Linked DNA regions of Homo sapiens: region 2 is linked to region 1. The links come from fine-mapping of genetic effects on gene expression. Tissue or cell type: whole blood. Region 1 holds a variant in brackets; the other region holds the start of a gene. Each region is shown on its reference strand, or each on the opposite one. Region 1 overlaps FOXP1 (forkhead box P1). Region 2 holds the start of LINC01781 (long intergenic non-protein coding RNA 1781).

Region 1 (12,913 bases):
GTCCACATTTCAAATACCCCATCTATCGTCCCTATAAACATGACTCACTCTCATAAAAATCAGAAATCCTAGTTTTAGAGTCATAAAATATGGTCCCTATTACAATTCCATGTATTTCCATAAAACCCTTAAGGAACTGACTCACATAGGCCCTTATAATACTAACAAGAAAAGAACAAAAAATTTCAAGGATTCACTAAGCCAACAGCACTGAACCGACTGTAGTCATAAACCAAGTCTGGAGCACATCCTCCGAGAATGATGATGAGAATACACCAAAATACCTGGAAACCAACTCCGACTTGGAGCCAGCCAGGCAAGTGGTGATCTGTAGGCAGGAATACTGCAAAATGTCTGCTATAATAATGTAATTTTGGCGTAACTTTGACATCTATCTAAAACACAGGAAACAAAATGTAAGCCCCATGACCGATCAAAGCAACGCTGATCAACACAATTCCATTTTTTCACCTATCAAATTAGGGAATATTTTCACATATAATATCCCACATTATTTGGAGTTTAAGGAAATGGGCCATTACATACAAAGCTGATTGAGAACAAACTTGGTATTACCATTCTGAAAAACAGAAAGCTGGCATTAACGTTTCTCAGTCTCTTTGATCCAACAATGTCACTTCTAAGAATGTATAAAAAGGAAAACAGAGCTGGGCATGATGGCTCATTCCTGTAATCCAAGCACTCTGGAAGGCAGGCAGATTGCTCGAGCCTAGGAGTTCGAGACCAACCTGGGCAACATGATGAAAACCCGTCTCTATGAAAAACACAGAAATTGGCCAGGCTTGGTGGTGCACAACTGTTGTCCTAGTTACTTGAGAAATGAAGGTAGGAGGATCGCTTGAACCTGGGAAGTTGAGGCTGCAGTCAACCACGATCATACCACTGCACTCCAGCCTGAGTGACAGAATGAGACCCTGTCTCAAAAGCAAAACAAAACAAAACAAAACAAACAGAAAACAAATCATGAATACATACAGAGTTTGGAGGTACAAGAAGCCAACAGCCATTCTCCACTGGGCTCTCCTGACTCACCAGGAATGGCAGATGCACTGGACTGGGGCAGAGTGAGGGAGCAGAATGAGGTCCCATCACAGGAACACCCCAGGTCTCTCTGAGTGTTCCCCAAAGAAGAAGGTATCACAGACACTCAGCAATGGCTCCACCATCCTCTCTCTCCACCCAGCATAAAACGCAAGCCCAAAGGGTGGAGGAGCATGAACTTCCGAGTCTGTGATCATCATAATGCCTTTGGGAATAAAAAGAAACCCTGCTGGACAGGAATTAAGAGCCTGTTCCTCTGGCTGGGGCGTAAGAGACCCAAACCAAAAAAATGATCAGGTGAAAAACAAGCTGCCTCAAGAGGACAGGGCCCCACCCGCACTTGCAGACAAAAAGAAAAGCTTGGTTCCAGGAGGTGAAGAAAAGCTGTGTACACGAAATTGAGTCAAAGAGAGCCCACGGATCTGCTGATGGGAGGGGTAGAAAATTAACATGGATTGAAACAATAACAGTGACTTATTTCCAGAAGAAATGTATTTATGTGATTCTACCACTGGAATCTATCTCTACTAGTTATATGAAAGTAATGGGATAAAAGCAAACAAAATAATTGAACAATTTATTACCTTCAGGAAAATGTAGGCATCTAACATGTTCAGTTACGCACAGGAATTACAGGAATGGAATAACATGTAGACTCTTTAAGAACACTGTGTCTGGTTTTGCTCAGCACTGAATTCTTGGCTCTTAAAATCTATTTCTGAATGAATGAATGAATGAATGTTGTCCCTTATTCTTCATTTTCTGGCAGCCTCGTTTAATATGAGCTACATCGGCCGGAAAGTACTGGTGTTTTTGGATTGCTTTCAAAAATGTGAAAACAGCAAGACTAATCCTATTTCCACTTCTTTATCCACCTTTAAGAGTAACCTGCTGTGGCATGAGTTCCTGTGCATTCCATTATCTCGGCTGACTCTCCATCCTCCTGGCCATCAGCAGAGGAAACTCTGGCTCACAAAAGGATTTAGCATCCTAGCACAGTAGGGATTTCGACTTACGGCCACCTTCTCCAGGCTCCCCTCCACTCACATAATTTTGGTCTCCAAACATTGAGACTGCCTCTCCCTTGGGTCTTTTGGACCTCATTTATACCCCCCAGCAGTTGATGGCCAAGATCTAGTCCTCATCACAAGGCTTGGTAGGCCCATTCTGCAAATAGAATTATATAGATTTAGGGAGGTTTCAGTCTAATTTGGAGAAAAAAAAAAAAAACCAGTCTCCATAGATACAAGCTTTTCAACATATTGCTTTTTTGCTCTCCTGTTTTCTTACACTGAGAATGTCAATGCAGAACCGGAATATAAAGTAAATTACACAGGCTGGAGGACTGAGCATCCCACCCAGCCCTCCCCAACCCCACTGGTGGAGACCACAGGGCAGAGTGGATGGTAGCAGGGACAGGAGCTCTTCGGAGGCAAGGAACAGAGCCTTAAGGTTGGAGCTACAACCCGCTCTCCAAGGCTCTATAGGAAGGAAGACACCAGCTCGCTGCTCTCACAACTCATCTTCCTCTCCACTGTTTCATTAAATTGCACAAGGATGGGACTGCCTATGCAGGTGGCAGACAGGCAGTGAGGGTGCCAGGCCTTGCCACAGATGCAGAGCTCGGGCAGACTTCAGGCTACAAGCAGCACAGGTCCTGATGACAAAGTGGTCAAGGTGTGATTATGGCTGCACGAGAGCTGCTCAGAACCCTGGGACCATGCATGCAAACGATTGCCTTTTCCTGGTTCCTGAAAACCTTTCTGTGTGTCCATGTGCATAGGGTGGGAATGGGAGAAAGAATCAAAGGTAGCAGTGATGTAATGAAAACCTTCAAGAAAGGGTGGGGAGGGGTCTGAAGGGCAGTGCATTCTATTTCTTTCAGCTAAGAAAAGGTAAGAAAACTTAGAAGAAGGAAAAATAGAATTACCACATGATCCAGCATTTCCACTACTGGGAATATTCCCTAGAGAACTGAAAGAAGAAACTTAAGAAATACTTGTACACCCATGTTCATGGCACTATTATTCACAATACTTAAACGGTGGTGGCAATCCAAGTGTCCAGCAAAGGATGGATAAACAAAATGTACACACATTCAACAGAATATTATTCAGCCTTTAAAAGGGAGAAGGGGCCAGGCGCAGCAGCTCAAGCCTGTAATCCCAGAACTTTGGGAGGCCGAGGTAGGCAGGTCATTTCAGGTCAGGAGTTTGAGACCAGCCTGGCCAACAAGGCAAAACCCCATCCCTAGTAAAAATACAAAAAAATTAGCTGAGTGTGGTGGTGCACGCCTGTAATCCCAGCTACTTGGGAGGCTGAGGCAGGAGAATTGCCTGAACCCAGGAGATGGGGGTTTCATTGATCGGAGATTGCACCATTGCACACTCCAGCCTGGGCGAGAGAGTGAGACTCTGTCTCAGGAAAAAAAAAAAAAAAAGGAGGAAGTTCTGAATCCTGCTGTAACAGGCACGTACCTTGAGGACATTATGCTAAGTGAAATAAGCCAGTCACAAAAAGACAAATACTATATGATTCCATTTATATGAGGTATCTAGAGTTGTCAAATTCATAGACAAAGTAGAATGCTGGTTGCCAGGGGAGGAGGGAGTTTCAGTTATGCAAGATGAGAAAGTTCTGGAGACTGGTTGCACAACAATATGAATATACTTAACACAACTAAACCTTACACTTCAAAACATTTAAGATGATAAATTCTGTTATGTGTATTTTACCACAATTAAAAATAACAAACAAGTCCAGGTGCAGTGGTTTATGCCTGTAATCCCAGCACTTTGAGAGGCCAAGGCAGGGGAATTGCTTGAGGTCAGGTGTTTGAGACCAGCCTGGGTAACAAAGTGAGACACCGTGCCGGGCGCGGTGGCTCACGCCTGTAATCCTAGCATTTTAGGAAGCTGAGGCGGGCAGATCACGAGGTCAGGAGTTCAAGACCAGCCTGGCTGATATGGTGAAACCCCGTCTCTACTAAAAATACAAGAAAGTTAGCTGGGCATGGTGGCACATGCCTGTAGTCCCAGCTACTTGGGAGCCTGAGGCAGAAGAATCGGCTGAGGCAGAAGAATCACTTGAACCCGGAAGGCAGAGGTTGCAGTGAGCCAAGGTCGTGCCACTGCACTCCAGCCTGGGTGACAGAGCAAGACTCTGTCTCAAAAAAAAAAAAAAAAATAGTTATCCAGGCATGCTGGCATGTGCCTGTGGTCCCAGCTACCCAGGAAGCTGAGGTGGGAGGATCACTTGAGCCCAAGCGGTTGAGGCTGCAATGAGCTATAATCATGCCACTACATTTCAGCCTGGGTGACACAGTGAGACCCTGTCTCAAAAATAAAATAAAACAAAATAAGAATAAGGAACAAAAAATTGGAAAACTAAACAAGCAAAAGACCCTACCCTGTTCCTCACATTTTAAAGTGAAACTGGTATTAAATGGAAAGCATGCACCAGGTATATGTTAGGAATTCTCTTTTTCTGTCAGCTATGATAGTACTTCAGGTTTTTTAAAGGTAACTGCATTCCCTATTGCAAACAGGATAATATAAAACTTTTTTCAGCTGCCTCTTGTGAAATTTTGTTCCATATTTTAGATTAGAGACCTAGCTTAGCAGTGCCTTTAGTAAGGGTAAATAACTTTGCAAATCATGGCACAACTCCCTAGGTGGGACTGTACTATGGATCAGTCATTCTCATGGAAGTAGAAGGTAGCTTTAACCCCTACGGGACATACATGTGGAAATGTCTGGAGACAGTCTTGGTTGTCACTGTCATGGGCAGGAATGAATGGCAGAGGCAAGGATGCTGCTACACATCCCACCGTGCACAGCACAGACCCCACAACAAAGAACTTTCTGGCCCCAAATGTCAACAGCGCTGAAGTTAGCAGCTCTGCTCCAGATTGGCCTAGCAGTTCAGGCATCTTGTTTGTTTTGCTCTTCCTTTTACCCATGCCTGTGAGCAGGCAGTGGAGTGAGTAGTCACTAACATGTCAGGCCCTGTGCTAAATGCTCTAGGAGAATGATCCTACGATGCCCCCGGCGTCACTAACAGGGAACCATTTGGAGAGGTTGAGGAATGTGTCCAAAGTCAGTACCACTGGTGGAATTTTAAATCAGTCCTAAAGACCTCCAGGGTGGTGTTCTTACCTCTGCTTCGTAAACCCTCAAGTTCTCAAACTCATTCTGGCTTGTGGGCAGCAAGCCAGGGCACCAGTGCTCAACAAGACACGCTATAGAGAACACTGGCACTGGGAACTGTTAGCCAAGTCCCTTCCCACTGAGGCCCTTCAACATCTTGGCAGCCTATCAACCCCACTCAGACTGCAGAAGAATGTTTGGATTCGAGGGGAAATTGGGGAAAAATTATTTTCTAGATTTTATAAAGGTTACTGTCATTTGCACATAATAAATCTCTGTTCTGCCTGATGTTATTTGCATGAAGAGGGCTTCACCCACTACGTTCTTAACGATATCTTCACCAGAACCTTCCCATTCAGAAGTCATGCCTACACAACTTTGAGAATTCCCAAGCACTAAACATCTCAGGAGCTGAACCATCTAGGGAACTCATATTCATGCCTCAAAGCCCTGTTCAGACTTGGTGCCCCACTTTTGTGGAGCTTGACCATATATGTCCCAGATGCCCCAGTTGTTCATTCCTTCTGCATAGCTCCATACTGTAACACCCTGACATTGTACGCATACTTCTCTACATTAACCATTAGCCAACCAGACTGAGTTGCTTGACACAGGGACTAAGGACACGTCTTTGTATAGGTTTTGCATATTACAACAGGCCAACTACAGCACCTGTCAGAAATGGCTGAAGACCTTAAAAAGCCAAAAAAAAAAAAAAACCACATTCAGAGATCAACTAAAACACACAAGGAGACACCCACAGGAGGACACTGGTGATTTCCTCTGAATCTTGAGAACGTCCAGCTGATTTTAGTGAAATTATTCATGCAAGTCTCGCGCAGTGAGTTGGGTGCTGGGATGTCTGGAGAAAGCTACATGGGCACGGAGGTCCTCTCTGTCGTCAGTATCATCCTGCACCAAACTAGCCGCGGCCCCAGTAATAATGCCACAGAGAAGCTTCCTCCATTCCATGGTCTTGGTTTTTTCTTTTGTTTTTGTTTTTTTGACAACAATCACAGTCACTCCCACGTCTGGATTTGTCAAAAGCCCAGGCCTGCTCCATCAGGAAAACCAGGGAGAAGGGGATTGCAGGCGGAGTTGCCTGCTCAAAAAAATGAAAGCATGCAGATTGTCAGGCCCCACTTGGGACTTAATCTGAATCTCTGAGGGTGGGGCTCCAGCACCTGCAGTTTTTATTTAAATCTTTTTTTATTT[T/A]TTTTTTATTTTTTTGAGACATAGTCTCGCTCTGTCACCCAGGCTGGGCTGGAGTGCAGTGGCGCGATCTCAGCTAACTGCAACCTCTGCCTCCTGGGTTCAAGAGGTTCTCCTTCCTCAGCCTCCTGAGTAGTTGGGATTACAGGCATGTACCACCACACCTGGCTAATTTTTTTGTATTTCTGGTAGAGATGGGGTTTCACCATATTGGCCAGACTGGTCTTGAACTCCTGACCTCAGGTGATCCACCCGCCTCGGCCTCCCAAAGTGCTGGAATCACAGGCGTGAGCCACCACGCCCGGCCCTTATTTTGTTTTTAACTGACACACAATAATTGTATGTATTCATGGGGTACTGTGTGATGTTTTGATACATGTATATTTGGTGTCATGATAAAATCAGAGTAATTAGCTTATCCATCACCTCGAACATTCATCATTTCTTTGTAATGAGAACATTCAAAATACTTTCTTCTAGCTCTTTTGAAATATACAATACTTTATTGTTAATGACAGTCGCCCTACTGTGAACAGGACATGGGCACGTATTCCGCCTATCTAACCGTAACTCTGGGTTCACGTCTGTCGGTCTAACAAGCCCTCCAGGTGACCCTGATGCACACTCGAGTTGGAAAGCCACTGCCTTCTCTCCATGCTTCTCAACAGTCATGACCATCAGAATCGCCTATAGGGCTGGTTAAAACACAGACTGCCAGCCCTCATGCCAGATTTTCTGATTCTGCCACTCTCCCTCCAACAGGGCCCCAGAACCTGCATCCCTAGCAAGCTGCCAAGTGACCTGCTCTAGGGATTTCTGAAACTAAAGAAGGGAGCTGAGTCTCATTTTGTATCCTTTTGTCATTTTTTTCTCACTTGTATATACTTTTAAATAAAGAATGGAGGCTATTTCTCAGCTGATGAGAAAATTCTATAGTATTGTAGGGTGGCCTTATGATGATCCAAGAATATACCAAAATAACCTCTTCAACAGAATACTATTTCCCCTTTTACCCTTCTCTCCCAATATTCTATGAGACCCCCAAAGGCAAAAAGCACCCCACATTTTGGACCAGCAGCTTGGCACTCAGCCTCCTTCAGAGGGGCTTCACCAGCCAGCCCCAGCCCAACTGGTTTCTACCTAAATACTCACTCCCTATGCACTATAGCTACTGACTTTGCCTCAAAGTGATTTCTCTCTCAAACGCCTAGTACATCAACGTCAATTGGCACTGGTTTCTGTTAACGAACAGACTGGCCTGCGCCAACCACAGCTTACCACACGTGTACTCGGCCTACTTCCCTATTTTCAATGCCTAATGATTTTTGCTGCGCCTGAACACATCTGGAGGGAGCCAGGCCCACTGGCTGCCTCTCGTCCCACTCCAGGCCCTCCTACAAAGGTGCACTCAGCAAACCCTCCAAGTACAGACAGGTTCTACAATGTTGCTCCAAGTCAGAGAGGAGGCCTCAAACAATCAAGGATTTTTTTTTTTTTTTTGGAGAAATGATCAAACCCGGGGGTGGGGACAGAACTTCCTGCAAGAAACCGCATCCTGAACAAGCATCACCACGACTCACTGTAAATAAATACTCTCTCCTTGCAGCACTTCCGTCAACTGTCAGGGCCCTGGCTCCAATCGCCTTTCAAGTCCAAACAGGAAAGGGGAGAAAAGAGAGTGAGATGGCAGATAGGAGGTTTAATTTGCTTCTTGCTGCAGTTTTCATTGGTGGGGCGCTTCCAATTCAGCAGGCCTGCCAGCTGCCTGGAATTGCTCCTGGACCCCACTTTTTCCTGTTAACCTTCATAATTGTATTATTACGGGCCAGCCCACAACTGGCCTACCCAAGGCTCAGAGGAGTGCGGCTTCTTCCCTACATCAGATAAGAAGCCAAAATCAAACAGGCCTGCTGCAGACAGAAAGGCAACTGATGTTTGCGAGGGATGCTCTGTACATGCCTCTGCTGTGACTTAACCCAAGGGATTGGGGGGAGTGGGGATGGCCATGGGGACTGGAGGGTAGAGGGTTCAAGAAGGAAATAAGTCAGTGACCTCAATTTTCTGGAAAACGAATGTGAAGGATATCCTTTTCAAAGTGCACAATGTGGCCGGGCAGGGGAAGATGTGCAAGGGAGATCTTTCATTTCAATAACAGCAATAGCAAGTACTTCTGGAGTGCAGACCACGTGGCAGGCATGACATAAATAGCTTCAACATACCTTTAGTCCTTAGTGTTCTCCATGGTACCTGTGAGGGAAGAGCCATAACCCCCATTTTACCAATGAGGAGGCCAAGTGTGGGAGGGCTACAGAAACACAGGCTGCTTCACAAACCGTAAGTGGCAAAAGCAGGAATTCAAACTCAGTTTTGCCTAAATCAGGGCTGCTGTGAACAGCTGGGAAGGAGGTGTACTGCACAACTGAAACGAGTGCCACACACATCTCCAGCAATGTAAATGGCAGCTCAGCAGTGTTTTGCCTGAACCGGAATGGGGCTGATGCTGAAGTCCACATTTTAACCATGGAATATACTGCCTCCCAAAGGTTCTGGAAAATAAAAATGAGCTCTGTCCAGAGCTTCTCAAGAAGTTCTAAGATTCTAAGGTAGTATGAACTCCATGGCTTTCAACCAAGTCAATTTGCCCTATATAAAGGGCCTTTCTTTGTTGAATTCCCTATAATTCAAATTTCCCATTTGTTTCTGTGTTATGTATGCCCCAAGTCTGTTTTTACACAGTATTGAAATTAACAATGCCTGGCATATTAATAATAGATATAAATATCTATCAATAGATATTTATACCTTTTTTTTTTTTTTTGAGATGGAGTTTCACTCTTGTTGCCCAGGCTGGAGTGCAGTGGCGCAATCTCAGCTCACTGCAACCCCCGCCTCCTGGGTTCAAGTGATTCTCCTGCCTCGGCCTCCCAAGTAGCTGCGGATTACAGGCACGTGACCCAACCCCAGCTAATTTTGTATTTTTAGTAGAGATGGGGTTTCACCATATTGGCCAGTCTGGTCTCAAACTCCTGCCGTCAGGTGATCCGCCCACCTTGGCCTCCCAAAGTGCTGGGAATTACAGGTGTGAGCCACCGTGCCCGGCCTATGTGTGTCTTTTAACACATACAAGTATCTATTGAAAACAACTCATAGGTGAGTGAGTGAGTGAGTGAGTGAGTGAGTGAGTGAGTGAGTGAGTGAATGAATTCAGGCATTCAATGTGTCATCACGATGGCCAAAGCAGAAGACAGTTCTTGCCCTTCTCTGAGAAGCCTGGGCCTCATGGAGAAATGGGTGCTCTGCCATCTTGCTAAGACTGGCTTCCATAAAAGCTGCTGTCACTTGTGGGCACCCTTGATTTTTTTTAATATAACTATGAAAATTCAGGCTCGGGCACAGTGGTGGTAGCAGCTCTGGTTGCAGATGGAGGTAATATAATATGTTGTTGGCAGCCCAGGAGGAAACAGGGAGGGTAATAAGCAGAGAAAAAGCATGTTCAAGAATGAAGGAGTGGGTGAAACCTCGTAAACTCTTCGCAGACAAGACATGCCCCCTGGAGCCTCTGCCCTAAGGAGGGAGGGAGCCAGGCGGCTTCCCAGAGGCAGAGGAGGATGAAGCTAGAGATAGGGCTGAGGTGCCCAGGGCACCTGCTGCCACACACTGAAAAAAAAAATTAATAAAAGTAAAAATGAACCACTGCATGTAGCAGCAAAGTGTTATTAAAACACTGTAATGTCTCAGAGGTTCCTATGAAGTCATGTTCTTACAATTCACTCATAAGAATTTAAAGACAAAATTATATGCCTCGTAATTCTCCAATGAGTATGTTTCTCTATGGATCCCATTGTTTAGATGGGATGCACAGCTTCCAGCAGGTTTAAATCATTGAAGGGATTTTAAAAACTGGCACTTTCCAGAAATCTGGCTGCACATTCCTCAGCAGGAGTAAGTGTCAATACAGATTATGTCTACATACTTGTGTATACCAGTACATCTATTTCAGGACACGCTTTCCATCAGGGTTGCAAACTCAAATGCCCATAGGGGCCAGGCAGTTGCTTCAATGGATTCAATGGATGAAGCAGGCAGGGACTCAAACACTAGGGAGTGGGTGGGAATGCATCCCTAACAGACAGCTTTGACAAGCCCCATCTAAATGGGCACTTGACCCCAGCATGGGAGAGGGGCTGGTGTTACTACATCTTTTGGTTTGTTACAAGAAGTCAGGAATCTGGGCTCTGCATAGGAAACCTCAGTAAATAAATGCCAGTGATCATCCAAATACCTTATTTAGAATACCATACAAGTTAGCATGTAGTTGTGGCCTGAATACCTCTGTCTACACCTATGTCTACACATACAGCAAGAATGACTGTTTAAATTTAGCCACTATGTTTCCAGGCCCCTCTGCCTTACACATTCTCAAGCTAGTTTATGAGGCACCCCAACGAGCTTACAAACAGTCACATCCACTTAGATGAATGGCCTGAGTCAGGGAGGAACCTGCCAATCTGGGCAGTGATTGGCAACCAGGTGCCACATGGCTGGAGTCAGATCTGAAAGGGCATCACTCCAGCTGGAAGGAAGTAGGTCAGTGGCCTAGTTCCACAGGTCTGCATACCAACCTGCTCCCATTCCATTGTACTTTTCCCTTCTGGACAGATGAAACCATCGAGGCCTATGTCCAGTTACCAGACAGAAACTGAGAGGACCCACTAAGGGAGCGTGTGGATGAGGTTCACGCTAGCAGCATGGTTCTTTAAAGGAAGCTCATCCACGTCCAGCGTGCCCTACCTGTTCAGACACAGGTTGCAACAGATAGAAGCAAAGCCCTTCTAAAAGAATCTGGCCTTTTTCATATATTTTTATTAAACTTGAATACTCACCAGAATGGGGCAGGGGGAGAGGGGTTTGGATATCATGTCTTTCTCTTTCACCCTACTCAAGATCATAGTGAAATTTCAACATTTGCAAGTATAGAATCTATACAGTATACTTACAACTATGCAAGTATAGAATCAGCCAGAGACAAGTGTAGACACGTTCAGAGAGAAGAACCTCAAATGACTCATTCTTCCAGTTTTCTCAAACTGATTTCAGCTTTGAGGAAAGAGGCTTCATTCATACACACCACACATCAGATAGTGCCAGGCCTCATGGAACCCTTCACGGGTTGATGCCTCTAAACAACGCTTCCCTGCCGAGGAATGTGAATGTTGCCAGCCTTGGGGACGGAACCCCAGCACAGAAATAGACTCCTTCTAAGATTTCAATCTTAGTGACTGACAGACACCTCCTAGTCTATCAGGAGATCTTTATCCCCTGACCAGGGTGAAGGATTCCCACTGCTTCCTTTCCCCTTACACACACCTCTCTGAACAGCTTCCACAAAGAAATGTACAAAATCCTGCTCCATTAAGTCTGCGAAAACAGTATGGGCACTAAATGCTTTCCTCATTCTGCAAAGAAAGGCTGTTGACTGGTAAGGTTTAAGCAATACTTAAGAAAGAAATTCTGGTACCTCTCCCAAAAGACAAACTGTACCTATAATAATATCCCTGGACAATTAATGGAACATAGCAAAGACTACACAGTGGTTAAGATCACTGGTATTAAGAGCACTGGCTCATGGGTTAGGGTCTGTTGTTATTGACCTGTGAACTTGGGTAAATGATTTAATTTCTCCAAGCAGCAATGTCCTCATATGTAAACTAGTAGGTAATAATGGTACCCGCAAAAAGGAGTTTTCCTTAAGAATAAAATGGGACGCATTCAAGAACACTTTGCAAAATACCTTAACTAGTAGGTAATGGTGGTAGTGTCTACAACAAAGATAATTCCTGTCGGCTGCTTTACTGTCCCCAGCTAAGATGCCTATTCCAAACTTCTCTGTTTTGAATACCAAATTACCATTGCCACAATTTCAGAACCAAATCACTGGCAAGTAAGAATCCTTAGAAACCTGCTTAGCAAACTTTGACCTGGGAATGCCGGCACACGTCTTTTTCATGGAGGACACTTGCAACTGTACAACTTAGTAAGGCGTGGGCATGCAAAGTTTATTAGCTAATGTCAAACCCTAGCTCCAATGAAATCAAAGAACAAAATGCGTGTTATGACCAGACCTAACCCCAAACTGGTTTTTGGTTCAGAAACAGAATGCCTGCCAATTCGGGGAAACTACATAGAAACAGTAATCAAACAATATTATATGATCATATTCATTGTCATTATTAAATTTTGGTAATAAAAACAGGGTAGAAATATAGAAAGAGCAAAAAATTGATGTGTTTTACTTGGGTCAAGGTTTTTCTTAATTGCAAAAATAGAGCAGGGCCCAAATTATAGGAGGCAAGCAAGGTGCCTAGGGTGCAAAATTTAGGGAGGCACTAGCTCTCAGGATCGTCCAAGTTCAAGATCAGCATTGACAGCAAATGCCTCCTTAAATTTTCCACCCTAAACACCCTCTGTGGCTCCCCTTAATCCGGTGTTAA
Region 2 (12,913 bases), not on the chromosome of region 1:
GTAAATTCAAAGCAAAGAATTAAATAGCAATTCTGAAAGCTAATAAGGTATCAGGTAAAACACCAACTAATTATAGAACATGGGGCTGACAACGCAGTATCAGGTGTGGTGTGCTTTTGTAATGTTTAAGTGGCTTTACTGAAACATTATTCAAAGTTCTAACAATAACATTAAAAAATAGTAACCATGCCCTAAATCTATTCGGTTTTTACTTGAAGAATAATGTTTCAATTACAGATTAAACTTTAGTAGATGAATCACATTTCTTGATGCATAAGAACTTTTTAAAATATTAATTCCAAGCATTTCTTCAAGTTTTAGAGTTATACTAGTCAAAATATGCAACCCTAGGTGGCTTAAGGTATTGGTTACTTTCATCTCCTTACATTGCTGGATAAATGTAATCAAGGTTCCCACTCGTCTATTTTCTAAGAGAGACTGACATTGCCGAAGCTTACTTTATATGGTTCGGAAGTCTACACTTGAAATGGCTCATATTTATAATCCTCTGGAAAGAAAAAGGATTAATTTAGAATGCAGGTGTTAATGTGTTTGGACCATGCCTATGTCTCTACTTCTGTGATACTTAACACATTTATTATTAGTCATTTTATGACTGCTCCTATTAATATGCAACAACACTATGCCAAGATCAGCACCTTTCTTTCCATTTCACTCTTGAAAGGACTGAGATATACTGTAAAGAAAGAGGAAACTTACCTATCTGCTATTAATGTTTTCTGTTCTTTTAAAAGAATACTTCAGATGCCTGGAGTATTCTTGCACTTACCACAATCGCTGCCTTAGCTTAATAAAAAAGAATAATTTTATTAGTTTTTTTCATTATTTCCATATATCATGTTGAATATTGATATTACAGCAGTCAAAATAACTGTGAAGTGTTTCCCTTGATATCTTGAATCTCAGTAGAAAGTGATTTAACCCTGCCTTTGCAGACAGACCTGAGTGATAGAGCCTGAATATATCTGGTCAGGCCTCAAACAGCTATATCTACATAACCTAGAAAAATAATTGTTGGAGGCAGAGTATTGTTAATGTCCTATAATTGACTTAGAAGGTTAAGTGACCTCTTAAAAGAATGTGAACTTATGAATTAAGCAGTTCTTTTACTCTCATGGGGCAGTTTATTCGCCAAGAAGAAGTAACTGTTAATGAGCTCCCTAGCTAGCAAAAGCTAGATGTAAAGTATGTACAACTTCAGAATGCCTAGTACTTCATACAGTAACAACAAAAGTTAGGTGTTGAGTTCATTCAGATCTTAATGGATCAAAAGAGAATAAGGGAAGCTTGTTTTAAAAGCTGAATAGCAACAAAATTATTTTGGAGTTTTGTATTCATGATAATTATTATAAATATAAAATTTTTAATGCCTTTAAAGTTTTCACACAAAACATGGAAAATTTTGAACTTTTTAAAGTGGAAATTCATTATTTCTTCTCTACCACAATTTCCCTTGGAATTTGAAGGTACTCAAATCCCATGTTAAAATATTATTAGAATAGAAATTGTCATTCAAGGACGGAATTGGTTTTAATTTAGTAAATAGAAATTTAGCACCCACAATGAGTTAAATTCTGTGCTATGCACTAGGGACACAATGATAAAGAAACTGTGGTTTTGTTTGATGAGGTTTTTTTTCCTCCCATCAAAGAGCTTCCTGTCAAGTGAAAGATTCAATAACTCAGTAGAGTCAATGCCAAGAAGTAAATGCTGTGTTGTGGTTATACCAAGGAAATTATGGAAGTCAGGCCCACTTCTTTTCCTCTACACAGATTGGATCAGCATGAGTGATATCACTCTTAGTTGCTTTTGTTTTAATGTGGACCTTTGGGCTGGGAGTTATAGTCTAACGAGGACTAACTTTTCACTACTCAAGTACAGAGCATATACTTAGCCATGGGTTGGACTGTCATTTCTTCCTGGAGTTCCTAATCATATAAATTACAAAGACAAAGTTTTTTTTTAAAGCCTAATAAATCAAAGAAAGGAGCATGGTTGGCTGAGTCAAAGGTTTGGCAACAGCAACCACTATGAGTAGGAAACTGAATAAAAATATTAAATAGCCATCTGCTAAAAAATAATAAAAATATATTTGTTTCATGCTTAATATGTTTAATAAAAATATATTTGTTTCATGCTTAATATGTTTAAAAACAAGGTCATGAATTAGATATCGTGTTCAAATCCAGAACTGTGGAAGGAATACAAGAGTTGGATGCAGAATTGCTAGCTGTTCTTTTTTTTTTTACTTTTCTATATTTCCTGTAAGAGGTACATTGAAGAGCATCACACTGCTTGATGGCATCCTCTAGGACTAGATGACTGGTCTACTGAGGCTGAGGCATCAGATAGCAGAGAATCAGAAGCATTACTATGACTCTTCTCAATGTCTGATTTCTGAACCTTCCACTGCTCTAATATAGTTTATATATTTCCAATGTAGTTCTATATAGTTCAGTGTTACTTAAAGTATAATCTTGCAGCCTCATGAGAGACCTTGTTAGAAATACAAATAATCAAGTCTCACCCCAGACTTAATCAGAATCTTTCCTATATGGGCCCTGCAACTTGTATTTTAAAAAGCCCCCAAGGTGATTCTGATCCTTAAATTTGAGAAGCATGACTATCAAAGGGTATATGATCCTAAGAATTTATTTGGTAAGAGCTGAATTTGGTAAGAGCAACAGATTTGGGTAAGAGCAATACTTAAATGCTCCAAAACCATTTCTTATGGTGACCTTTTTCTCTCAGGCTAGTGTATACACAAGCACAAGTATTTATTTGGAAGGAATAGGAGCTACAAGAAGTGGTTTTGGAGCACTTTAGTGTTGCTCTTACCCAAATCTGACCCAATTCAGCTCAGGATATTACTATATAAAGCCTATTAAAATAGTGATAGTTTATTTCAAATATAGGAAATTATATAGAGTCTTTTGACATAATGGGATAGCCAGATGAGTAATAGAATTGGAATAATTTGTCCAAAAAAAGTAAAAAGTAAAAAGAAATTTAGGAAATAGAGAAATTGATGATTAATTGTGGAAAGCAAGAACTTTCACAAATGGCAGAATAAATTCTTAGAACCGTATACCCTAAATACTTTTTTGGAACGAACAGAGGATATAACATTATTCATATATATAAACACGCACCTTTAGAAGCAAATGAACATTACCAAGAAGATAAAGCACCAATAAATGCTCAAACTTCTGTATACTTCCTTTAGGAATCAGGAACATAGAAGATATAAATGACACCAAGCAAGAAAACAAAGCCCAATGATAATCTAGTTAGACAAGGCAAATCTATGCATACTTTTCATTCATTTAGGAAAGATCCAGCTGTCTCTTACTATGCACCCAGCACCATGCTAATTTAGAGAGAGAAAGCAGTGAAGCAAACAGGAACAATTCTTTCTCTCTTCAATTTTAGAGCCTTGTCACTGAGGCAGACATTGTAACAAAACAAAATAAAACCAACCCCCCTCCTCCCTATACCTCCAAAGTACACACTAGGTTATAGGCTGACGGCAGGGGGACCAGGGTTTGTATTTTTGCTCTATCATTGACTAGCTCTTTAACCTTGGACAAATCACATCTTTAAGCTTCAGTGTCTATAATGAAAGGTTAATAATAGACCTCAGTATTCGAGTTATTGTGAAGATTAAATGATTCATGATAAATTGCTGACTCATTGACTAGCACATAGTAAGTATTTAATGTTAATATTTTACTGTATAAGTAGATATGCTGTGTTAATTGAAAGAAAAACACAAGGTGTTTTGAGAATATATAACCAAGGAATCTAATTAAGATTCCATACAAATAGTGCAATCTTATACTAAACTAAAACTACCCAGTTTTCTGTATACTTATGCTTTCTGTAAACTATATGGAGTTGAGGCTTCCAGGGACTCTATGTGAGACTGCCAGCTTTGGTTTTTCTAATCTGACATTAGTAAGGTAACACTGAACGATTTACCCTAGTTCTGAAGCAGAATCGTAACATAAAGGACTGCCAGTATGTCCCCTGGTCTTGTTGGCTGGAAATGTTATTTTCATACAACCATTTTCATTTTTAGTCGAGCAGCATTGAAACTTTCCAGATTCCTTGCTGTTTGGCAAATGTTTTAATTGGTTATATTTTGCTACCCTGGGCACACTATTAGACAAAATTGCAACAAAAGACATCAATAAAAAGCAGAAAGCTTCAGATTGTTAAAATCGTGAATGTTATTAATACTATTAAAATGCTAATTGCTGTTTAGAGGAGATTCAGTTGCAATTCTAAAGGAGGAAATGCTTAGGCTGCAGGATCTGAGGCATGGATTGTTTGTTCCCTAAAGGGGAGAAAATTCACTTTTGTTTAATTTATAGGAACAAGAAGGCATTCCAAGGAGGTACACTGAAGTGACTGTAGACCTCCTAGGGTCAGAGCCACCTTCAGCTTCACCCCCACCCTAGGTGGTCCTTAATTGCCACTACAGACTGCCTGGCTGGAACTTATTGTTTGCACTGCACATGACCTTGGATGAAAACTAGAGCGCTATGAATTAATCCCTGTAATATTTTGTGTTTAACATCTGTGTTGTCACCAGCTATTATTCAGAGGACAAGAAAAAAAAATAGCCAGATCTATCTCCTATTACATTTTTTTTTAAGTCTACACTATTGTTTCCCAAGGACTCCCTAAATGGATCACCTATAAATGAGTGAATCCATTCATTTTCTTTATTTTCTGAAACAAAAGTCTACAGAATTTAGGGGATAATACCAAAACCAAATAAGACTATTTTTTCAATAATAGGAATCCCCCAGATATCTGTTTCCTCTATCTATATTGCTATCATCTGTCTTTTCTTTTCCAGTATCTGTTTTAAAATAGGGGAGGATTCCAAAGCACATATATCAAAATAAAATGATTTCATGTATCAGTTACGGCTTTATTCATTGATGAAATGTAGTCACCACAGGGAGAAATGTAGCAACAACTTAGCATCCAGAAATAATACAGAACACTGTGCTGCATTAAATGAAAAATACCTGCAAGAGGAAGTGAGTTAATAAAAATTCAATTACTCAAATGGGAACTTTTCCAAGACCCCAGGGTTAACACCTAGATTAAACTCTCACTCTCACTCTCTCTCTCTCTACACACACACACACACACACACACATGCACACACACACACCTGGCTTTATTAGTTGTCAGAAGTGTTTAAAATACTCCTTTTCCTTTTATATAAATACAAGAGATACATTTATGGCTAAAATAGTTTTTATATCATCAAGCTGAGAACTAGTTTTACATAGGAAGCTAACAATAACAACAATAATAATCACAAGGATTAGAAAGAAAATGACAAAGTGTGTTGGACACGACACAGAACATTTGAAGGCAGACCCCAACACTAGGCTGTAAAATTAAGTAATGAACAGTCACTGTAGAGGGCAGAGTGACTCACAGAAGAGTCAGATCTTTGGTCTTTGATTTCATAGCTCCTTCTTAGATCTTCTCTTAGAGGTTATGGAAAGGAATGATCATCTTGTGAGGCTATTTAGGGAATCTGAACATAAAAGAAAATAGAGTTACAGATGGGTGTTAAGAGACCATTTTACTCTACTTCAATAATGTGAAAAACAGAGTAATTAGCATGGAGAAAAAAATAAGTAAATATGAGCCTAGAATACATCCTATACAGAACTTGAAATATTTTTATAGCCCTAATGTGTACTGAACTTATGTGGAGAGAATAATTTCAGAATGATATATTTAGTTGGGGAGCCACACAAACTGGGCTCTCTTAGATGCTAACTGATTATGGGAAGCAAGAAGTGAGCAGCATGGAAAAGAAATGGTAAGAATTTAGTTGGAGGAGGAAGACATCTGGAGGTTCGGCCCCAGTTAAAAATTCATAGGCAAATCCTGCTGGAAAGGGAGTTAGCAGTTTAATGAATAAGTTATTATCTAAACCCCAGGAGGTTAAATGTTAACAGAAAGGACTTCAACAATGATGTCTTAAGTGCTCCTAACTAGACACATAATGTTTAGTGTGCTGCCATTTTTTCTGAGTGTTAGTTTTAAATAGACTATTGACAAATTACAGATTTTTTTCACGTATTGAAATTATATTCCAGATGATTTTGAGATTTACTGGTATAATATTCTCCTCATGAGGTAGGATGGAAGGGAAGAAATAGAGAAAAAATGTTCTGCTCTGAAATAAATGTGGTGTTTCCTGACAGCGTTTGTCAAGGTAAGGTGTTGTCTTTAAAATGGGACATCTAGTTTCAATTTACATTATGCTTATTTCTAAGACTTCTATTTTTTGAGTTTTATGAGTAGATTCTGCTTTTCTCTATCATTTATTCAGATTATGACCACATGTGGCACTTTCTTGTATGGAGTGGTGAAAGTGGGGAAGGAAGAGAAAAGATATTTTACAGTAATGTCATATAGTAATCCTGTTAAGATTGGAGTTTATGAAAAAAAACACGAGATAAAACATTATTGTGATATTTCTTATATCAAAGTAGAATTTTCTTTCCCTCAATTATTTTTATGTTTTAAAAATGTTTTTCCCTCTTTTTGTCAAAGGCAGCCTCAATAATAGTTATCATATCTCAGTGTTTATGTTCTTAAGGCTTTCAATATTATTAATCAATCTTTCTATTTTTTTAGTAGATCACAAGTTTTAAAGAGTGTATTTTAATATAATACTCCTATTATAGGCCTATAAAATATTTAATTAAGAGAATATAATTTTCTTACTACGTTTCTGTGATTATTCATACCCCGCTCCCTCTTCCCAGAACACTTACTTGCTCCATTAGATTCTTACACAGGACCCTTTCTTTTTCCTATCGTAATTCCCAGCATAATGTGTTATCTCGCAGCCACTTTTTCAAAGTATATTTCCTTAGACTTAATTAGATTAAGAAAAGAGCAGTAACTAAGGCTTCTACCTCTTAATGAAAGCTTCCTTAGCTTTACAAATACCAGGCCAGATCTCTGAAGTTACTGTTTGAAAAGGCCCGATTCTAAAGCACTTTTATCCACATTTGACTCTCTTGAGGCATTTGTTTTTTCCACTTCAACTCACTTAATTGCACATGTCCCCAGTCAGACTGCCTAAAGAGAATGACTGTGTCTATCTTGGTCAGTTTTTACCCCAGCACTTAACACAGAGTCTCAAATAATGCAGGCAAACAACAAATATTTGTTATATTAATTCAGATTCTATATAACGTAGAAAGCAGAATCAATCATCAACGTAATAGATTCTGCTTAATTATAAAGAAATAATTTAAAATAACAATAATAATGATGATGATAGTTAACATTTATCAAATCTTCCCTAAGTGCCTCAGACTTTTCTAACCATTTTGTACAGATTAAGTATCACAAGTCCAAGAGGTAAATGCTATTTTAAACTTTACTTTATAGAGGAGAAAACTGATCACAGCAAGTTTGAGGACATAGTCTTTAGTCAAACACCCAGTAAGGGGTAGAGGTGATACTGACACTGTGTTAACACTTTTAAGCCTCTGACATTTTATTTGTAAAGCAGCTGCTTAATATATCTAAATAACTAAACCTCCCTTGCATTCCTTTTACTACCTATCATGCAGTTACTAATTCAATAAGATCTTTATTATGCCTTAATATTCTATATTTCTCTTCCTAATTTTCTTTTAGAGAAGTGAACTGTATACAAATGAACTATCCTAATCATTTTCAAGTTATTATGCATGCCCCTACTCATTTGTTAGAAAACTCTTTTCTCTTAATTATCTTTTCTCACAATAAATTGATTAAAGCTCATATTATACATATTAGTTTCTTAATTTCTTCCTGCTAAGATTAACCCATGATTATTTGAGAAACCTTCAGATTTGTCCTTGCAAACTTGAACTGCCTCTGGTTAATTGGTTCCTTCTACAGTTCTTCCTTTCTACCACTGACTTGCAGTTACCTCCAGTTATTGAGCAGCTACTTACAAAGTTATTTGATATTTGAATCCCTCTTTTCTAGAAGACATGCAATCTGTTACGCTTTAATTAGCAGGATTATCCTAGGCTATACCTGTCTTCTTCACTAACAGAATTTCTACCTCATATTACTTCTGATTATCAACAACTGGCTTTCTTAGCATCTAACACACTGGAAATTCTGTGTGCTTGATCCCATTTTTAACAGTGCCAAATTTAAATCAAATGTGGTTCATGTGGCAAGGATATTTATTTTTTCTATTTTTTAATTAGTTTTATGCTTTCAGTAACTAGTAGATCAAGATGCATTTCATACCCCTTAGAAACCTGTAGTTTCTGTATGGTAGAAGATTTAAATAACATTGTTATTTAGGGAGATGTGTTTTTGTTTTCTGACTGATTTTTTCTCCTCCAAATCATAAAGGCTTTGTAAATCACTCTCAACATTTTATGAAAGTGACTTGCAAAATAAGATACTTAAATGTAAAATCTTAGTTGTCAGCCATCAGTAAAATAGGCTGTATTGGCTGGGGTCACTCAGTTGCACAGTGTCATCTGGAAGTGAAGAATCCTTGGAAAGTTTTCTCTACTATCACCAAAAATTTTGGAAATCCATATACACATTCCTGATATTGATACAGATGGTCTTCCCAATAGTAAGGTATTTTACTTGAGACATTGAAGATTTATCTTGTTCTTTATAACAGTATAGATTGCTTAATTCAGCCAAGATATTTCAAAAGTTGGAAATTATATTTCCTCTATACCTGACCCAACAATATATTTGTAATTTTGAGTGACATTTTGTTTCTTACACATGAACTGACAATGCATCTTCTGATCAGTAAAGAATGCTAAATTGTGTTAACCAAATGCCCTACATGTTAAATCTATTTCTAATTTTCAAAACAATTTACAGTGTCTACTACTTTTAATTCTAAATATGTAAAATGCTCTAAAAATGTACGTTAAACACTCATCACTGCTTCTAAAACCTGCCTCCATTGATAGCAACCTGATCCATTTCACTATCATTGTTTTCCCATATTACTAGTATGATAACTAGTTGCCTTATTATACCCATGATGTATTCCCTGCAGTCTGTTCTCAACATAGAAGTCAAGTGAGTTCATCCCTTCTTTGCTCAAAACCCTAAGGGCTTCCTATCTGAGTAAAAGAGACAAATTCCTTTTGATGACAAGATTATTTTTAATCTATTCTTCCATAACTTCTTTGACTTCACCTTCTTCTAATTTCCTACTTACTCTTCTCCAGTGCCATTGGCTTACCTGTGCTATTTTTTTTATTCCTTTTCTTTTCTTTTTCTTCTTCCTCTTTTTTCTTTAATAAAAATAAATACAGACAAAATTATTTTCCCTTGTTTTTATTTCTGTCTAGAATGTTGCTCCCCTCAGGGGGCTCACTTCCTCTCCCACGATAAGAGAGAAAAACAGGAAGGGTAACTTGGAAATAAGTTAGTTTTAGAAGCTGTGAACATCTAATTTTTAATAATCTAGGATTGAATTACGATAGATATTTCTTAATACACAGGATTATTTTCAATATCAGTCAACATGAACATTTGAAAATAAATGCTTGATGTGATGTATAATACAGACCATCCTGCTTAATATGCACACTAATCCCCTTCTAGTATGTTTTCTTCTGCTGAAAAGACTGGAAAGATTTTTTTATTTTTATATTTTTTTTGAGACAGAGTCTCGCTCTATTGCCCAGGTTGGAGTGCAGTGGCGCAATCTCGGCTCATTGCAGCTCACTGCAACCTCTTCCTCCAGGGTTCAAGCTATTCTCCTGTCTCAGCCTGGCTAATTTTTAAATTTTTGTTATTTTTTTTTAGATGAAGTCTCGCTCTGTTGCCCACATTGGAGTGCGGTGGTGCAATCTCAGCTCACCACAACCTCCGCCTCCTGGGTTCAAGCGTTTCTCCTGCCTCAGCCTCCCGAGTAGCTAGTATTACAGGCACACACCATCATGTGCAGCTAATTTTTTTATTTTTTGATAGAGACAGGGTTTCACCACGTTCGCCAGGCTGGTCTCGAACCCCTGGCCTCAAGTGATCCACCCACCTCGGCCTCCCAAAGTGCTGGGATTATAGGCGTGAGCCACTGCGCCTGGCCACTAATTTTTGTGTTTTCAAGTAGAGATGGGGTTTCTCCATATTGGCCAAGCTGGTCTTGAACTCCTGACCTCAAGTGATCCACCCCCCCTCAGCCTCCCAAAGCGCTGGATTACAGGCGTGAGCCACCGTGCCTGGCCAAGATTTTTTTTTTAATGCAATGTATAGTTTCCCTTATAATTATGGTTTTGGAAGTAAGACTTCGATTTAGAGCTTCATGGAATGAGAGGCAGGACAGAAAGTGTCCATTTTTGCTGCTGGAGAGTGTAATATTGGTGTGCAGTTCTGGACTAGCAAATATAGTTGAAATGTCCCAATTCTATAGTTAGCCTTCTGATTCCACATCTTGCCTAATCATGGTTGGCTGAGGCAGCAGTCTCCTTGATGGTCAAGTTCTAAAGTGTGCCTTTGTGACTAATTGCCTGTGATAAGTCCCTTTGTCTTTAAAGTAGAACAGATTTTGTTCTCTGTGACACTGCGGACTGAAACAGTTGGTGTGTTTTTTAAATTTTTTTTCTTAAAGTGCAGAAGATTGCATTATCTGTTAAAATATGCCTTAATCTTTGTGATCTGAACATGATACAGAACTTTGGGAATATGCCAGCATACAAAAACATTTTTGTTTAATCATGACATTTAAACTAACCCTCTACCAAGATAAAAGGAGAAAGTGATGTACTAGTAGAGCAGAAATCCACTAGATTGGTTCAAGTTTATATAGCATAAAGGAGTACTACCTTTTGTAACCTCTTTGATTTTTTTCTGCTTTTGAAGAAGGAAAGGTCGAAAATAAAGCACTGATGGAAATACATGATAAATAAGGTAGGTCTCATGGCTACACATCATGAAAAACTAAGCACAACATTAGAAAGAGGAAAATGTGTCAAATATATTCAGTTAACTATACTATGTTAAGATTAAGATATACTACTGTGCTGGAAACACAAAACATCAAGTATTTCACAATATGATAAAATCTTTCATCCCTGCTAGTGACTCAAATAAGTATGTGTTCCTTGCCATTTACAGAAAGGGCATGTCTTATTATTTCTCAATATTATGAGTATGTCAAATGCATCTTCACATATATGTTAATAAAATCTTGAGCAGGTCATCCTTTGGACAGTGATTCTATGTATTTTCACAATGGATATGCAAATGTAGTTATACATACATATATATGAACAATAAATACATATAAACAAATCATCATTTCATTATCATCATCATCATCATATCTTAGGTGTTTAATGGGCACCTATTTGCTTTGAAGTTCATTATGTAATGGAATTCAGGTAAAAAAGCAAATGGCTTCTCATTGTAAGCAGCTTGAAGTATATTTAAGAAAAGAAAACATAACATTTTTATTTTATGGTTTACTGGCTTACTCTCTACTACTCACCATCAGAAGTAACAGAACATAATTTAGCATCCTGGAAATTATATCTAAAAAAGATATTGCAGTAATCTATGGTGGGTATATATGATTTAGCAGAATCACCTGAGACTAAGACATGTGGATTTAATATAAAGTAAGATAAACTTGATATGATCATCAACAATGTAATGAAGTTTGAGGCTGAAATGCCAGAATTATAATATTTAAAACAAAAGATAATCATTTTATTGTAGTTAAATAATACATTTAGTTCTAAATATAAGACACACACATACACACACAGACAGATAGATGGATGGATGGATGGATAGACAGATAGATAGATAGATAGATAGATAGATAGGTAGATAGATAGATAGATATTCTCCTGGAATATTTTTAGGCAAGAAAAATAAGTATAACTAAAATACCTGAAACTCTGAAAGCTTGCTTTGCCCAGAAAAAGGAAGACGATGGTAGAAAGGATCAGGAAATAGTTGCCAGGTATGAAAGCAATTTGACATATTTAGTCTCAATTAAAAACAAATAACTTTCTCTTAGAGATGTCAAGAAGTAAAATATACTTAATCAAAGGATACCAAGCTATCTGTCAGAGGAGCTGTTCAAGCAAAATTTATTTGACAAGTGGGTTGAAATGATTCAAAGGAAAGCCCGACCTCTGAAATCTATCGGACCAAACTTTAATTTCCCTTTCAACATCAAAATACTATGCTTTTGAAACACACATTAAAATAAGCATACAAGTCAATAAATGCCAGTCACAGATAATTTGTAAGTGCTAAGAGAGTTTAGAGATGGTAGAGAAAATAACTTCTATGGTGGAAAAAAAGCCTCAAAAAAGTAATGGGATTTTAATTGGACCTTTAGGGGAAAAAAAGGAGTACATGTTGCAAACATTCCAATAAAGGGAAGACATCTGATCAAAGATAAGAAAAACCCAAATATGTGTAGAATTTTCAGGGGAAAAAAATGATAAAATATTCCATTTGTATAGTTTATACCAATTTTCAAAATTCAAAACAAACATTACACATTTTATTCTCATAGTGTCCCTGTAAGGAGATAATGTTACCTACACTGCAAAAAGAAATGAAAACTTAGGCTGGTCACAGTAAAACTGCAACTAGGACCTGTACTTTCTAACTTGCTTACAAGTGTTCATTCATTCTACTCTATCTTAAATGACATTCCATGGAGCAGAGTGTAATCTTCTTTTCATAGTAGATGTATATATGAGTCACATCTTGGAACTCGCAAAGAAGTTCTAAATTTTGAGCACTGTGTAATACATATTTATTGTCCCACAATTGAATATGTGTTTGCATGGGAAATATGTTTCTTTGAAGGTATTCTTTGAATCCAGTT

The links.
Region 2: it holds the start of LINC01781, and the variant in region 1 is fine-mapped to the expression of LINC01781 in whole blood (TOPMed, PIP 0.96).

The regions. Positions count from the first base shown.
Region 1 is chr3:71,436,465-71,449,377 of GRCh38, forward strand. The region is part of intron 3 of FOXP1 (forkhead box P1); the gene reads right to left. Among named protein-coding and RNA genes, the nearest start is that of MIR1284, 99 kb to the right of the region's middle. RefSeq lists enhancers at 7,402-7,511, 7,902-8,041. The variant T/A (reference allele first, on the strand shown) is at 6,426.
Region 2 is chr1:80,529,666-80,542,578 of GRCh38, forward strand. It overlaps LINC01781 (long intergenic non-protein coding RNA 1781), which reads left to right and starts at 6,090. Exons shown (of 3, transcript NR_125941.1): 1 at 6,090-6,277.